Linked DNA regions of Homo sapiens: region 1 is linked to region 2. Evidence: fine-mapped expression QTL. Tissue or cell type: whole blood. Region 2 holds a variant in brackets; the other region holds the start of a gene. All regions are shown on one strand. Distances are from middle to middle.

Evidence for each region. PIP is the estimated chance that this variant, and not a neighbour inherited with it, causes the effect.
Region 1: it holds the start of SAMD9, and the variant in region 2 is fine-mapped to the expression of SAMD9 in whole blood (INTERVAL, PIP 0.99).

Annotation. Positions count from the first base shown.
Region 1 is chr7:93,113,384-93,121,491 of GRCh38, forward strand. SAMD9 (sterile alpha motif domain containing 9) reads right to left here and starts at 4,596. Exons shown (of 3, transcript NM_017654.4): 1 at 4,480-4,596; 2 at 1,412-1,512.
Region 2 is chr7:93,035,386-93,043,493 of GRCh38, forward strand. No RefSeq gene overlaps it. Among named protein-coding and RNA genes, the nearest start is that of SAMD9, 79 kb to the right of the region's middle. RefSeq lists enhancers at 3,632-4,147, 4,349-4,488, 5,180-5,694. The variant T/C (reference allele first, on the strand shown) is at 4,893.

The DNA of each region.
Region 1 (8,108 bases), 78 kb after region 2:
ATAGGCATGGGCAAGGACTTCATGACTAAAACACCAAAAGCAATGGCAACAAAACCAAAATTGACAAATGGGATCTAGTTAAACTAAAGCACTTCTGCACAGCAAAAGAAACTATCATCAGAGTGAACAGGCAACCTACAGAATGGGAGAAAATTTTTACAATCTACCCATCTGACAAAGGGCTAATATCCGGAATCTATGAAGAACTTAAATTTACAAAAAGAAATCAAGCAACCCCATCAAAAAGTGGGCAAAAGATGAACAGACACTTCTCAAAAGAAGACATTTATGCAGCCAACAGACACATGAAAAAATGTTCATCATCACTGGCCACCAGAGAAATGCAACTCAAAACCACAATGAGATACCATCTCACACCAGTTAGAATGGGGGATCATTAAAAAGTCAGGAAACAACAGGTGCTGGAGAGGATGTGGAAAAATAGGGACACTTTTACACTGTTGGTGGGACTGTAAACTAGTTCAACCATTGTGGAAGACAATGTGGCAATTCCTCAAGGATCTAGAACTAGAAATACCATTTGACCCAGCCATCCCATTACTGGGTATATACCCAAAGGATTATAAATCATGCTGCTATAAAGACACATGCACACGTATGTTTATTGCGGCACTATTCACAATAGCAAAGACTTGGAACCAACCCAAATGTCCATCATTGATAGACTGGATTAAGAAAATGTGGCACATATACACCATGGAATACTATGCAGCCTTAAAAAAGGATGAGTTCATGTCCTTTGTAGGGACATGGATGAAGCTGGAAACCATCATTCTGAGCAAAGTGTTGCCAAGGACAGAAAGTCAAACACCACATGTTCTCACTCACAGGTGGGAACTGAACAATGAGAACACTGGGACACAGGTTGGGGAACATCACACACTGGGGCCTGTTGTGGGGTGGGGGAGGGGGGAGGGATAGCATTAGGAGATATACCTAATGTAAATGACAAGTTAATGGGTGCAGCACACCAACATGGCACATGTATACATATGTAACAAAGCTGCACGTTGTGCACATGTACCCTAGAACTTAAAGTATAGTTTTTTAAAAAAGGAGGAATGACTGAAAATCATGAACCTAATGCCAGTTTAATAAATTGAAAGAAGAATAACAGAATAAAACTGAAATAAGAAGAATGAGAAAAATAAAGATAAGAGCAGGAATTTATAAAGTGGAAAACAAAATGACAAGAGAGACTCAGTGAAGTCCAAGAGCTGTTTAGATAAAAAGTAATAAAATTGACACATCCATGGAATGATTAACCAAAAAATAAAAAAGAAAGGTGGCACAAATAAGCAATATTAGAAACTTTAAAAATGAACCAACTTTAACTGAATAAATTGAAAACTGAGATTAATTGAGCAAATTCTTAAAAAATATAGCTTACCAAACTGACTCTAGAAGAAACCGAAGAAGTCTCACTTCCAGGGTGATGTAGGAGATCACAAAAGGCCACCTATTCACCCACTGCAACCATGAGATCAAAATCTGAAAAATTGCAAAACTCATATTTTTAAGTAATCACAAAGTCATCAATAGACCAGATGACAAGGACTGGATGAACTAAAATTCCAGAGAGGAAAGATCCCTGTCTATGTAAGCTTTGGGGGCATTTGTTGATTTGGGGTTGGGTTTAAGGATTAGACTTGGCCTACCGGGAGGAGGAAAACCAGTGGGGATTTTCATAGTCACAGGGGCGGGTCTAATGAAGTGCAATTAGAAGTGTTCCAAAATGTTTACCGTAATGGAAATGCAAAGTAAAATTACAACAAGATAATACTACATGCCTACCAGAATGGCTAAAATTAAAGACTGTTAATGCCAAATGTTGGTGATGATGTGGAGTCAGTGGAGCTCTCATATGCTGTCTGTGGGAATGTACATTGTTTTAGCCACTTCAAGAAACTATCAGTTTTTGTGAAGTTAAATATATACCTACTCTTTGGATCTGCAATTCTCATGAAAATTATTAAAGTACTGATACAGGCAACAACATGAATGAATATCACATCATACTGTGTGAAAGAAGCCAGTTACAACAGAAAACATATTGTAGAATTCTACTTATATAGTTTAAGAATAGGCAAAAGTAATCTGTCATAGAAGTCAGACTGATGTTGGGGGGTGGATATTTTCTGGGAAGGGGTGATGGAAATATTTTATATCTTGATATGGCTAGCGGTTGCACAGATAAGTACATATTAAAATTTCATAAAGGCTTACCCTTAAGTTTGTTCATTGTATACAAGTTATACTGTATTTAAAAAGCCAATAATGCCTCCAAAATACATTAGAAAATAAAACGGATGAATAAAATAAAAGAGATACTTGCATAAAAAAGATGATGGTGTGTTATGAATCAAGGATAATTGTGAATTCAATGGTATGTGAGGTCCTAAAGTTTTACTAGGTGTTTATTATTGCAGTCTCAGATTATGAACTTTTGACTTCTGCATCCCACTCAGTGTTGATTCAATACTGGTTTTAGAGTTGTCTAAAAACTGACTACACCCTCGTCTAGTAACCATTCTATCTGAGTCACTTTCTTGTATCCATTTACTGAGTCACGTCTACTCCACCCTATGAAAGTATGCTCACTTTTGTTGCACCCACACTATTTAACACATAAAGCAGGGGTCCCCGATTATTGTGCTGCTAGCGTGCGCTGGCTCCTGAGGCCTCATACCTATGGCTCTCATCCCCCATCTCGCCGCTTCCCACCAGTACCCTTTTCCTAGGGTCTCCCTGACTTCCTTCATCAACTTGGACCTTTCACAGTTTTACAGACACAGTCCTTAGTCTCTGGTGATATGTCATAAACTAGATTATGAGACTGGTGAATTAGATGGATTATTTGATTCATGCAAGAACTACATACCATTATATGTGAAAACGTAAAGTCAGGTTCTCATATAAGAGTGTGGGGGATGGAGAACTGGGCCTGAACATTTGGTTGGGAAAGTAAGCAAATAATAAAGAAGTGACTTTTGACTGTTTTCTCTACTAGAGACACTATGAATATTTCAAATGTCATTGAACAGGTTACACTTTCACACTTCTTCCCCTAAAGCTTTTGTCAGATTATTGATAGCTGTGCCTTTCAATACATTATTTTAAAAAAATTGTTGATGATGTCACTCTTGGAGAAAATATATGCCAGCATTCATAGGTATTTATGCCACTGTTCATAGATATTTTACATATTAATGATTTCTTTATACCCTCTCGTTCCAAAATGTTTTTTAGGTAATTTAGAAAGTAATATAGGATCACACATATATTAAAACCCTTAGGTAAAGAAATCATGGGGAAGGCTAAATAAGGGTAGGGGGAGAAAAGGTGAAATGAGGGAGTAAAATTAGTACCTAAAATTACTGGTTTTGATTCCGTATACTTTAAAAACTGACCTGAAAATTTGGTTCTGAGCATCTTAGTAGGAAACACTATTTGTTACTGATTGAACCCACATACATTTTTTAACTCTGGTTGGTGTTAAACTGTAGGGTTTGTTAACTTTTCTAGAAGGGAGTTGAAGGTCAGACCTTTATTCAGAAATGTGATCCTCCAACCGTCTTGCATTATCTTACTGTTTGCTTTGGGGAGAAATTAGACATAAACCTAGTATTTTTGCCAGGAACATAAAGCTGCCTTAATTCCAAAGACTTCCCATAGTAGTCTATCTGTCTGTCTGTCTTCCTATGTATGTCATCCGACAACAATATCTGAGAAGCTCTCAGAGAGTTTTGTTTTCTGGAAGCTACCTATTTCTTAGAGTAGATGGTGGAAGTTGTATTTGATTAAAGTAAAGTACTTTTAAGTTTTCATTGCCTGTTCTTTATCTATCTTTCCGTTTGTTGTTGTTGTTGTTGTTGTTGTTGTTGTTGTTTTTGAGACAGTGTCTCACTCTGTTGCCTATGCTGGAGTGCAGTGGTACAATTACAGCTCACTGTAACCTTAAATTCCTGGGCTCAAGCAATCCTTCTGCCTCAGCCTCCAAAGTAGCTAGACTGCAGCTGCGTGCCACCACATCCAGCTATTTTTTTTTTTGGTAGGAATCTTGCTAGGTAGGGTCTTGCTATGTTGCCCAAGCTAATTTTGAATTCCTGGCCTCAAACAATTCTCCTGTCCTTGCCTTCCAAAGTGCTCAAATTACAGGCTACCACACCTGGCCTGTTTGTTCTTTCTGAAGATGCTGTATGCCTTGGGAGAGTTCATCAATAAAAGTGTCTGTAGTTTTCAACTGCATCTTTAATGAAATGTTATGACTAATTTTTCAACTAATATAAAGCAGACTGCTGTCAGAGCAACAAATAGTCTAGAATTTCTAGGCTTAGAATACTATTTTTTGTTTTGAGGTATATTTGAAGCTTCTAATTGAAAAGTATATTTCTTTCTATTCAATAAAATGCTGCTATAGATAGTAAGAACAATATTAATAATAGATATTGTACTTACCCAGTAGTCTTGCAAATTTCTTTTACATATATGTGGGGAAAACCATCTCTTTTAGTGCTGAAAATATCTGATGTGTTTGTTTTCTTCCTCCTACGATGCTAGAGAAAAGTATTTTCCTCATTCTGGTTTTAACGGAAGTCTATGTATTCTCTGCTTCTGTCTCACAGCAAGCTCTAATTGGCTCAGAAACAGCAGGGCGTGTTTAACAACTGGGAGGTTGGGGAAGGAAGAATATAGGTTTGGTTTCAGTTTCATTTCTCAGATCTGAAATTACAGCACCGCCTTTTCTATCTGAAATGCTTTTTAATAAGCTATGGCTATATACCACCTTCTGGTCTGCTTGGTTAAAATCTGAAGGCTTAACAATTTTTCCTCACTTGAGAGTTTTGAGGGCTGCAGAAAGCCCCATTGTCTTGTTATAGACAAACTGTGGGATATTCTGGCTTAATTGATCCCTTGGGAATATGAGTTTACATTGCAGTCCCAGCCTTGTAGAGCACCAGGTTGGAGATACTCTAGGTCAATATTTCACTGGCCTTTAAGGGTGGAGTTACTGTCCATTCCTGTTTTCCTAAAGTGTAAAGAATGTCTTTCAGGGATAGGACTTCTTTGAGCACCCCAATAAGTGCTAAATTCATTTATTGCAGAGCAGACCAGGGCTGCAGCAGACCTGATGGTCACATTGTAGAGATTTATCTTTTCTAAGGTCAGTGTCAGGGCCAGAGAGAAAACTGCCTGAGTGAGAGCAACAAAAATAGCTGATATTTTAAAAACTAACAGCAAGTACTGATATTTATTGTGTGTGCTCAATTAGCTTTTGGTTTCCACATCCCACAACTGATTCACACTGGTTTTAGATGAAAACATTTAAAAACATTTATTTTAAAATATTTATTGGGCGCTTACCATGTACCAGGCATTGTTCTAAATGTTTCATATTAACTTAATTACTCTTCACAACAATCTCCTGAGGTAGAGATTATTTTTATCTCAATTTTAAAGGTGAAGAAACTGAGGCATAGAGATTAAATAATATGGCTAAAGTTTGCATAACTAATACATGGCAGAGATTCGAATCCAGGTTTCAGGCCAGTGCTCTTAAATCCTGAGGTTTAGGAAGAAAGAAAGTGGCTATGAAGGACAGCCTAGATATGACCATTACACTTATCACCCTCAGGAGCCCTCCTCGTAAGGGGACCCTGGGCCTGAACTCCAAAACCTGGGTTTCACTTTGCATGGGGACCAGTGTGATGGTTAATTTTATGGGTCAACTTGACCGGGCCACAGAGTGCCTAGATATTTGGTCAAACATTATTCTGGTGGTTCTGTGAGGGTGAGGAGGCAGGACTAGCTTGCAGCTCCTGCTGGGACAGACAGGACAGCATGTGGAGACTCACATCATGAACTTTTGCTTCAAGAATTACTGCAGCAACATACCAGGAAAGCCAAGAGAATTCACAGACCCTTTGAAGGAACTGTATCGCCACTGCAGTTTCTCTGAGATGCCAAAAAGAAAAGTCATGAGTCTGCTTGCTTTCTCAGCAGGGAGGCTGATAGCCAGGGGCAAGTTCTCAGCCCTGGTCACCGACTGCCTGGAAATAGATTCGATGTTGTTGGCAGGGGCACAGTGGGAGTGAGACTGGCCTTTAGGAGTGTGGGTTGTGTGGAAATGGGGTGAGGCCTGTGACTGCTGGCTTTTCCCCACTTCCCTGGTGTCCTATGTCACTCAGTGGAGACAGCCATAATCCCCCTGGGAACATAACTCCATTGGCCTGGGAACCACACCCCCGCCCCCTACAGCAAGTGCAGCAGACCCCACCCAATAAGAGTCTGAGCTCAGCCACACCTATGCCTGCCCCAACCTGTTGGTCTTTCTTTACCTGCCCTGGTTGCAAGACAAAGGACATATTCTGCCCACTGCCTCAGAAACATGAATATATAACTAGATGACCCTAGGTCAAGTTTGCTTCCTCCCTATAGTACCACAGCTAATGCACTCTTGAAAATGCCACCTCCTGGCTGGAGGCCAACCAACACAAAACCAGAGCATTTAACGAAGATATAACCAAGGACCCTTACAGAGTCCACTTCACTCCCCTGCTACCTCCACTGGAGCAGGTGCTGGTATCCACAGCTGAAAGACCTGAAGATGTATTACATCACAGGACTCTTTGCCGACACTTCCCAGTACCAGTCTGGAGTCCAGTAGCTCTGCTAGATGACTAGGCCCAGAAGAGAAAAAACAATCACTGCAGTTTGGCTCCCAGGAAGCCCCATCCCTAGAGGAAGTGGGAGAACACTACATCAAGGGAGCACCCTGTGGGACAAAAGAATCTGAATAGTAGCCCTTGAGTCCCAGATCTTCCCCCTGACACAGTCACCCAAATGAGAAGGAACCAGAAAAACAATTCTGGTAATATGAAAAAACAAGGTTCTTGAACACCCCCAAAATACCACACCAGCTCACCAACAATATATCCAAACCAAGACAAAATCTCTGAATTGCCAGGAAAATAATTCAGAAGGTTTATTATTAAGCTAATCAAAAAGGCACTAGAGAAAGGTGAATTCTAACTTAAAGAAATAACAAACATGATACAGGATATGAAAGGAAAATTCCTCAGTGAAATAGATAGCATACATAAAAAACAATCACAATTTCTGGAAATGAAGAACACAATTAGAGAAATAACAAATGCACTGGAGGTGGTTGGCAAGATGGCCAAATAGGAACAGCTTCGATCTGCAGCTCCCAGTGAGATCAATGCAAAAGGCGGGTGATTTCTGCATTTCCAACTGAGGTACCGGGCTCATCTCATTGGGACTGGTTAGACAGTGGGTGCAGCCCATGGAGGGTGAGCTGAAGCTGGGTGGGGCATCTCCTCACCCAGGAAACACAAGAGGTTGGGGAACTCCCTCCTGTAGTCAAGGGAAGCTGTGAGGGACTGTGCCATGAGGAACGGTGCATTCTGGCCCACCCACATATTACACTTTTCCCATGGTCTTCACAAGCTGCAGACTGGGAGATTCCCTTGGAGGCCTACACCACAAGGGCCCAGGGTTTCAAGCACAAAACTGGGTGGCCATTTGGGTAGACACTGAGTTAGCTGCAGGAGTTTTTTTTTTTAATACCCTAGTGGTGCCTAGAACACCAGCAAGACAGAACTGTTCACTCCCCTGAAAAGGGGGCTGAAGCCAGGGAGCCAAGTGGTCTAGCTCAGCGGATCCCACCCCCACGTGCCAGGTCTGTCCTGCAGACCCTGGCCGAGCGATGGATCTAAGGGGTACTCAGACACAGGTATGCGTGTAAGAGCAGCTAGGGATCTGCCTGGCTTTAGTGGCCGAAGTGCAGCAGCCCTGAGAAGCTGGAGCTGCTTGCTTTTATTCAGTGCAGGCACAATGTCGAAAACCTGGAGCAAACACAACCTGAAGGTTACTAACATTTATTGTTCCCCTTTCAGGAAATGTCATACACGTGGATGATCAAAGGTCAGTTCCTTGTCAATATAAGTAAAGGAACCTGTTTAAGATAAATTCCCCTATACTCACTTGTACCTACTCCTTGCCCTCTGCCTCAGGGATATAGAACAGCTGCCTTCAGCTATTCTCCCCTGGACCTTCTGACCTTT
Region 2 (8,108 bases):
TACTGGGTATATACCCAAGGGAATATAAATTGCTCTATCATAAAGACACATGCATGTATATGCTCATTGCAGCACTATTTGTGATAGCAAAGTCATGGAATCAACCTAATTGCCCATCAATGGTAGTCTGGATAATGAAAATGTGGTGTATATATATACCATGGAATAATATGCAGCCATAAAAAAGGATTAGATCATGTCCTTTACAGGAACATGGATGGAGCTGGAGGCCAGTATCCTTAGCAAACTAATGCAGGATCAGAAAAGCATATACCACATGTTTGCACTTATAAGTGGGAGTTAAATAATGAGAACACGTGGATACAAAGAGAGGAACAACAGACACTGGGGCCTACTTGAGGGTGGAGGGTAGAGGGTGAGAGGAAGGAGAAGAGCAGAAAAAATAAATATTGGGTATTAGGCTTAGTGCTGGGGTGACAAAATAATCTATACAATAAACCCTCATGACACTAGTTTATCTATATAACCTGCACATGTACCCCTGAACCTAAAAGTTAAAAACATATATATATATAAAGATATATAAATATATGCAACATATATGAAGAAATAATATAGATTCAATATAAAAGTAATTATAATATATAAAATTACACATAATATTTAATGTTCTTAAAATATATTACTTAGATAATTTCAAATAAAGATTAATTTGCGATGTCAATCATTTTTAGACAATCAATAAGACCAATTCTGATTATCTGAACTTTCTGGTTGTTTGGATTTTGACCAAATGTGGGTTTATCACCCTTAATACTCATGTTTTAGGAGCAAATTTAGTCGACTACAAAAACTATCATAGTCTAGAGATAGCCATAGGCAAGGCTGAGTGACAGAGGGGCTAAAGCAGGTTCCTTGATCTTTCTTTGGGCTTCAGATGTGACTGTAGAGAACTCTTCCTGGGGAAAGCTGATGGGACCTGGGCAAGGATCCCAGCCCTCTGCTGGCCTCATAGGCTGAGTGACTGATTTAGAGTGCTTGGGGTCAGTATGAGTTAGAGAGATTCAACTCATCTATTTTGCTGAGGCAGCTCATCTATTGGCTCTATAGTGATGTGGATATTACTGACTTTTCTCAGTTTTACATGAGGCCAATTGAAGGCCTGTCCTGAAGTTCTGCCTTCAACAGTGCTAGTGTCATAACCACCATGGAGGAGTTGAAAGAAGCATAGAGGTGAGTCTTCTCTGTATTAATTTTCTTCCCTATCCCCACTTTGAACAGCAGGTTGAATTAGTGAAATGTTGTGTGTGTGAAGCAAGTGCCCCACCTTAACTCCTGGCTTTAATTGCATTGTTACCATTAATTTATCCTACTTTATTATAGTAGATAGCTTCAAAATTGTGTTCCTAGCACAATCACTTTATCTGGTAAATCCCTTCTTGATTGGCTTTTGTGGGAGTGGCCATTTTGTATAACATGATCCTGCTCCTTGGCTATATTTAATTGGTTCATGGATAAGCACTTGACTACATGGGCAGGTACATAATCCAAACTGGATGAGTCATAGTCTCTTTTTTTCTGGCTTTGACTGAGACTACAGGTGTTAATATTTGCATCAGAGATTGGTGACTGACTGACTCAAGCTAGGACAGTTAGAGCCTTTCCTAGAAGAGGCAGATAGAAACCCAGAGACTTGAGCTGAAGCAATGCGATATAAAAACCTGGTTGCTGTGAATAGCTGTGTTTCCTGCCACGTGGAAAGAATCAGTCTGGGTGAACAAGAATGAAACTGACAAGCAGAGCAAAACAGAGACTGCAGCAAGATGCAGGGGTTACTTAAAGCCCTGGTTACAGTTGTCCTTAAGGCTGATGTGAATCTCTGCCCTTTCCAATGTGTCATGTGATTGCTCCAAATTAAAACACCTATTATTATTATTTTGCTTATGTTGGTTTAAGTTAGGTTTCTGCACAAATCTTTACCACTTTTTCTTTTTTGTTTTAGTTTGATTTATGTTGCTATATAAATGCATTTATTGTATGACCCCTGAAATCTTTATGGAGCAAAGCAAGTTATAAGTCTACCAATCCAGGGGAGAAATGCATGTATTTATACCTTATACTGTGTGAGGACTAAAGAAAAGGTGGTAAGGGTAAAATCAGCAAGAAAAGTGAAAGTTGTGCTCAATTAACAAATTTTGGTGAGTGAGGAATTTTCTAAAGGCCATTTTTAAAGTTAGAGACCTAAAGTTTGGAAAACTGACATCGTTCTCAAGTAGGACATTCTTGGAATACTTTCACTTAGATTTAACCCATTTTGAAAGGTATCTACATATGCTATCCAGAAACAGTCTCTTTCATATTGTAGACAGTCAGTAAATGTTTATTGAATGAACCCATAAGTGTCCCTAGCTTTGAGGATCAGGATATTTCATTTAATTGACCTTAGGTAAGCTATTTAACTTTCATAGCAGTTTCTCTTGTGTTAAATGGTTATTGAAATACAGAAGATTACATTCAACATGAAATTTCAAAATTATTTCTGAGCACCTATTGTTAATATCACTATTTCCATCTTTAGCTAGTGTTCCTTCTTTAAGAGTCTGAAGTGAAGCATTGGTTCAGTACCTTCCTCATTAGTCAGTTGCCTCACCTTGAATCTGCATGACCTGGAAAAGAGGCTATGATGTGATCCATAGAATACCTCCTACCTTAACCTTCAGAACATCATCAGGACCTCTTGCATCTCGTTTTATTTTTGAGTTTTTATTTGTAACTATTTTTAAAGATATTTGATGTCTTTTATTATTCCAAAGAACTGAGGAAAAATTTACTTATTTTTCTTTTTTGAAACAGAGTCTCAATCTGTCACCCAGGCTGGAGTGCAGTGGGCTGTCTTGGTTCACTGCAACCTCTGCCTCTAGGGCTCAAGTGAATCTCCCACTTCAGCCCCTCAAGTAGCTGGGACTACAAGTGTGTGCCACCATGCCCGGCTAATTTTTAAGAAATATTTTGTAGAGACAGGGTTTTGCCTGTATAAAGCTTTATACAGGGTCCAATGGAGCTGCATGGTAATTACAAGATAGGATGGTAGAAATCTTCATGAGCCTATTTTTTCCATTTTGCTATTTCAACTTGCTAGGAATGATTTTAGCATTGCTATTTAATTGTTTTCAACTCTGCTTTTCTAAAAAGATTAAAATAATAAGAAAATGGAAGAATAATGAAACCTCCTGGAAGGAAATAAATAAATCATCATGGTGGCATCAAGCTTTAGTTTTCTTTTTGGGTTGTGCAAAGTATTGCATTTTTAAAAAGTAGGGAATAAGAGAAGTATGGAGATACATTTTTGCAGTCTTTTTAAAGACTAAACACAGTTGAGGATTTAAAAATTTCCATTTTCTTCCCATAATGGCAAAGAAAAATAAGTTGATAGAGGAAAGTATTATTCGATGGAACAGAAAAAGAATGCAAAGAGACAGGTATCAGCTTCCTAGGCCATAATGATGATAGTAAATTGGTCAGAGAAGTGAAATCTCAGGTATGAGTCCTCAGATGACAATATTCTGGGTATAATTTTTTCTCCCATACTTAAGAATCAATGAATGAACAATTCATTTCTAAATAAATAAAGAAAATATGGTATTCTCATCCAGTTAGTCATTCAACAGGAAATATTTTGCAATAAGAACTTAAACCATTCTGTTTTGCTGAAAAGATGTTGAGTATCTTTTATTGTTTCAAATTGTTTCAAAATTTATTCCATGTGGTTTATTAGCAAATGAGTTCTGAAGGCAGGTGTGTTTACAAAGGTTACTGGAAGAAAATACAAGATATAGAAGTAAAAAATTAACTGGATTATTTTAACTGGTGTTCATAAATCCAGAAATAAAATTTTTTGGCACTTATGGAGCAAAGAAAATGTCAGTCTTCATGCTGATGGCAGTGGTGGCCTGTCTGGAGCAGCCACTGCCATGATGCCCGCTGCAGTGGGGGAGGTGCAGCTGGGGCTGCAGACCCAGGCATCCCTGTGTCCTTGGGGGCTGGAAGCAGGCAGGATCCCCACCCTCCCAGGTGCTGCTGCAGCTGCCCAAGCCATGGCTGCAGATCTTGGCATCTCTGTGCTTTCAGGGTCCCAGGAAGCCCCTCTTCCCCCACAGGCTCCTGCTCCCTGGCCTCTCCCCACTGCTGGCAGCCGGTCTGATCTTGCAGCAAAGTTGAGGACCAGCCTGGGCGCTATGGCAACCTGGCTGGGTGTGCACAAGCTCAGGGCAGTGCTTACATGCCAGCCCCCTGCTGCCTTGGCCCCCACCAGACCTTGGGCACCAACAAACACAAGAGGGAGGCCAAAGGGGGTGCTGAGGACAGCTCTGCATTGGCCTGCAGGTGCCCCTCGGCATGAACAGTCTGGGCGCCATGAACAGCAGTAGGAGGCAGACAGGCTCCTGGGCCGAAAGGGACGGGTCCCCAGTGGAAGCTCACCTTCAAGCCAGAGAAAGCCTGAAGCCTGGGGGCCTGGCTGCCAGTCCCACAGACCAGGGTAGGAGATTACAGTGCTTTTTCTGGGTCACCCATGGACCAATCAGCACATACTTCCTCTCCTCTGAAGTCCGTAAAACCCCCAGATTCAGCCAGACTCAAAAAAGATGACAGGATGACCAGCTGCAGAGAGGAACTACCCACCCTAGGGTTTCCTCTCTGCTGACAGCTGAACACTCATCAGGACACCCTGGCTGTGGAGAGGAGCTATCCACTGTGGGTCTCCTCTGAGCTGTTTTATCACTCAATAAAGCTCCTGCTTTGCCTTGCTCACCCTCCTTTGTCCATGTACCTCATTCTTCCTGGATGCAAGACAAGAACTCGGGACCCACCAAATGGCAGGGTCAACAGAGCTATAACACAGGGCTGAAATGTGCCCCTTGCTCGCCACATTG[T/C]AGGCAACAAGAAGGACAGCAGAGAGAAGGAGAGAAGAAATGCGACCCTTTGGGGAGCTCAGACCTGGGAGCTCCCCAAGCCAGGGCTGTGACACCTCCTTTGGGGCTCAGCAATTCCTGCTGTCTCCAAGTTTTTGGGCACCAGTGCATTCCTTGGTGCCAGCCGTGGAAGCTGCTTGCAGTATGCAGTATGCAAGGCTAGTCCAGCTGCAGCCTTGCAGGGAGCCGACACCTGTGCTGGCTCCTGGAGTTCCCTGCCCCCACTGCCGCCAGCATGCCTGGCTGTGCGCAGTGGCCGGACACCTCACTTACCCACACACCCCTCACCGCTCTGCTCACCCTTGGCAGGCATGGGATCCAGGCCAGTAGCACGAGTTGAGTGCAGCCTGCCAGGCTGAGTGGGCCCAGCAGGCCCAAGCAAAACTTAGGCAAAGGCACCACCGGCCACAGAGATTTCCGGCTGGCGAAGCAATACCCTAAGAATCCTGTGACAATGCCAACACAATTCTGGTTTGTTAAAAATTTCAAATGTGTCACATTTTGATAAGGCCAAACAGAGCAGAACCATGAATATGCTAAAACCTATTAAAGAGTTATTTGAAATCAGGAATCAATATTTACACTATGGATATGCTGCAGGCTCCTGCATGATAGGTATGGCAGTTAGTTGAATTTTAAAGACGTCGTCTATTTTGGGTATAGATACCTTCAAAAGCAGGAAAATATGGAAAATTTAAATTTGCTATGCTTAAATTCTTATTAACATTTCTAACTTTTTTTTTTACTATCCCTTATTCTTACTTCTATCAATTATTTGCAAAATGACTTAAAAATATTTTTGAAAATATTTTAAAAAATTTAAAGGGTTTATTGGCCCCAGATGGTAAATGGTGATTTTTTTTCCTGGTATAATGAAGGTAAATGAGCTCTACTTGATGTATTTCAGTACATGTATCAATGTACATCAATAAGTGAATGGATAAAGGAATGACTCTAGACCCAATCAGTAAGAATATGAGGTGACTTTCAAAAAGAATATACAATAAAAGAAAGCAAGATAGAAAGGAGATCAAAGTGAAGGAAAAATACTTCTTTATTTTCAATTTCAGTGCTTGAGAAATAGAGCCAAATATAGCTACTGGTTGTAGCAACTACTGCAGTCTCCTTAGCTACAGAGAAGCCATGATGGCTCCTGTGCTGCTCATCAAGATTTCAAAGTTACAAAGTGAACCCAACTCCATGCCCAGTTCAGTTACAAAGTTGGAGACGGAGTTGTGCACACCTACAGGTATGTTATCTGAAAGAAGACATTGTGAGAACATAGAGCCTCATGACTTTGAAAAAAATATATTATACATCAAAATGCAATTTTTAATGAGTCTGCTTTCTGTTCCTATAAGCCAACTCCAACTCACTGCTTTGCAACTTGAGCCTTTATTCTTTATGCAACACTTATACTTCATTTCGTGCTGCCTTTCCCTTCTCAGTTGACAGTTCCAGTTTCCACAGAGGCAAAAAACAAAAACAAAAACAAAAACAAAAAACAACAACAAAAACAGCTGCATTTAAATATATATTTAAAATTTATGATATATATGCAAGGATGTTTATGGCAGCATTATTGATATTACTGAAGAATTTGGGATAACTTTAATGACCATAAATATGGGAAGGACTAAATAAAACATACACTGATATTCTGGAATATTATGGAGCCACTACAAATAATATAATACTGGTATTAAAGGCTATTCATGATTACATTTCTGAGTAAAAAGGAAGTTATAGAACAATATGTTTAACAAGATCCCATTAAAAAGAAGCGATCCTCTCTCTATAGGTACATTAAATGTATATTGCATGTATACAAGCATATGCAATACACACATATATTTTATACACATATATATTATACAGTATATGTGTTTGTGTGTTTAAAAAGACTGGAAAGATACTTGTTGGATTTGTAAGTGATTATTCCAGGGGAGTGGGAATGGAGGTAATTTTTACTTTTAATTTTAAACATTTTGGTATTGTTTTCTTTAACAAGAAGGTGATACATTAATAATTCAAAACTTTTTTTAAAGATAGAGCATATCTGCTATTGAGAGTGTACTTTGTAAGTGATGTCCATTTTTTTTCTCTTTCTCTCTCTTTTTTTTTTTTTGTAGAGATGGGGTCTTGCTATACTGCCCAGGCTGGTCTAAAATTCCTGCCCTCAAGCAATCCTCCTGTCTTGGCCTCCTAAAGTGGTAAGATTACAGGCATGATCCACTACACCTGGCTGGATGTCCATTTTTATGTATCTTCTCTAAAAATGCATTATGTGTACAACTGGGTCTTCAGTATCTGACTTTTCATCCCAGGCTCAAATGTTTCCTAGACTCTTAAACATGCCATTGTCACTTCTGAAGCATAGAAAAGGCACAGAGAGATAAAATGATTTAAAAAAAATCATCATCCAAGTTCTTGATAGTGGTAAGTCAACAAACTAAATCATAATTAATATTTTGCTTAGCCACCGATGAAGTGATATCAAATCTTATTAAATATGATTAATTAAAGCATTGTTGTAAATAAACACAAATCACTGACCACCTCAAAGCCTTTGCAGCCACTTTTGAGAAGTGCAGCTCTAAGACTAACTTGGATTTTTCCACTCCCAGTCTCATCCTCAGACAGCCCAATTACTGGGAAACACAAGGCTGAATTTGAAATTATTTTATGGGGGCGATTTTTCTGTCCCCTTACCCCCAGTTTCAACTCAATTAAGGATGCTTTCTTGTTTGGCGATTGCCCGATTGTGGGATATCTTCATATAAATTCCCCCAAAATGGAATCATGGATAGATATGTTGTAACAAACTGCACATTCCCTGATGTTTGCTTTTTTCGAAAATGCGTTAGTTCTACCTTCTTTTTAAAAATTCATTAATTCATTTATTTCTGCAAAGAGGGAGCGCCTTTAAGTCAACACACACACACACACACACACACACACACACACACACACACACACACACACACGAATACCCAGGTACTCAGGCCCATGCAGTCAGTCATTTACTAAATCAATCTAGGCTGGAGAGACTGTCATCCTTCAGCCCTACAAAGGGGCTCAGTGTGTGCATCTTGCGCGGAATTAGTGCAGGCAAACAGTTCCTGGAAGGGTGAACAGCTAGCTCATGTGTAAAATGATCGCACATCGGTTCCCCAG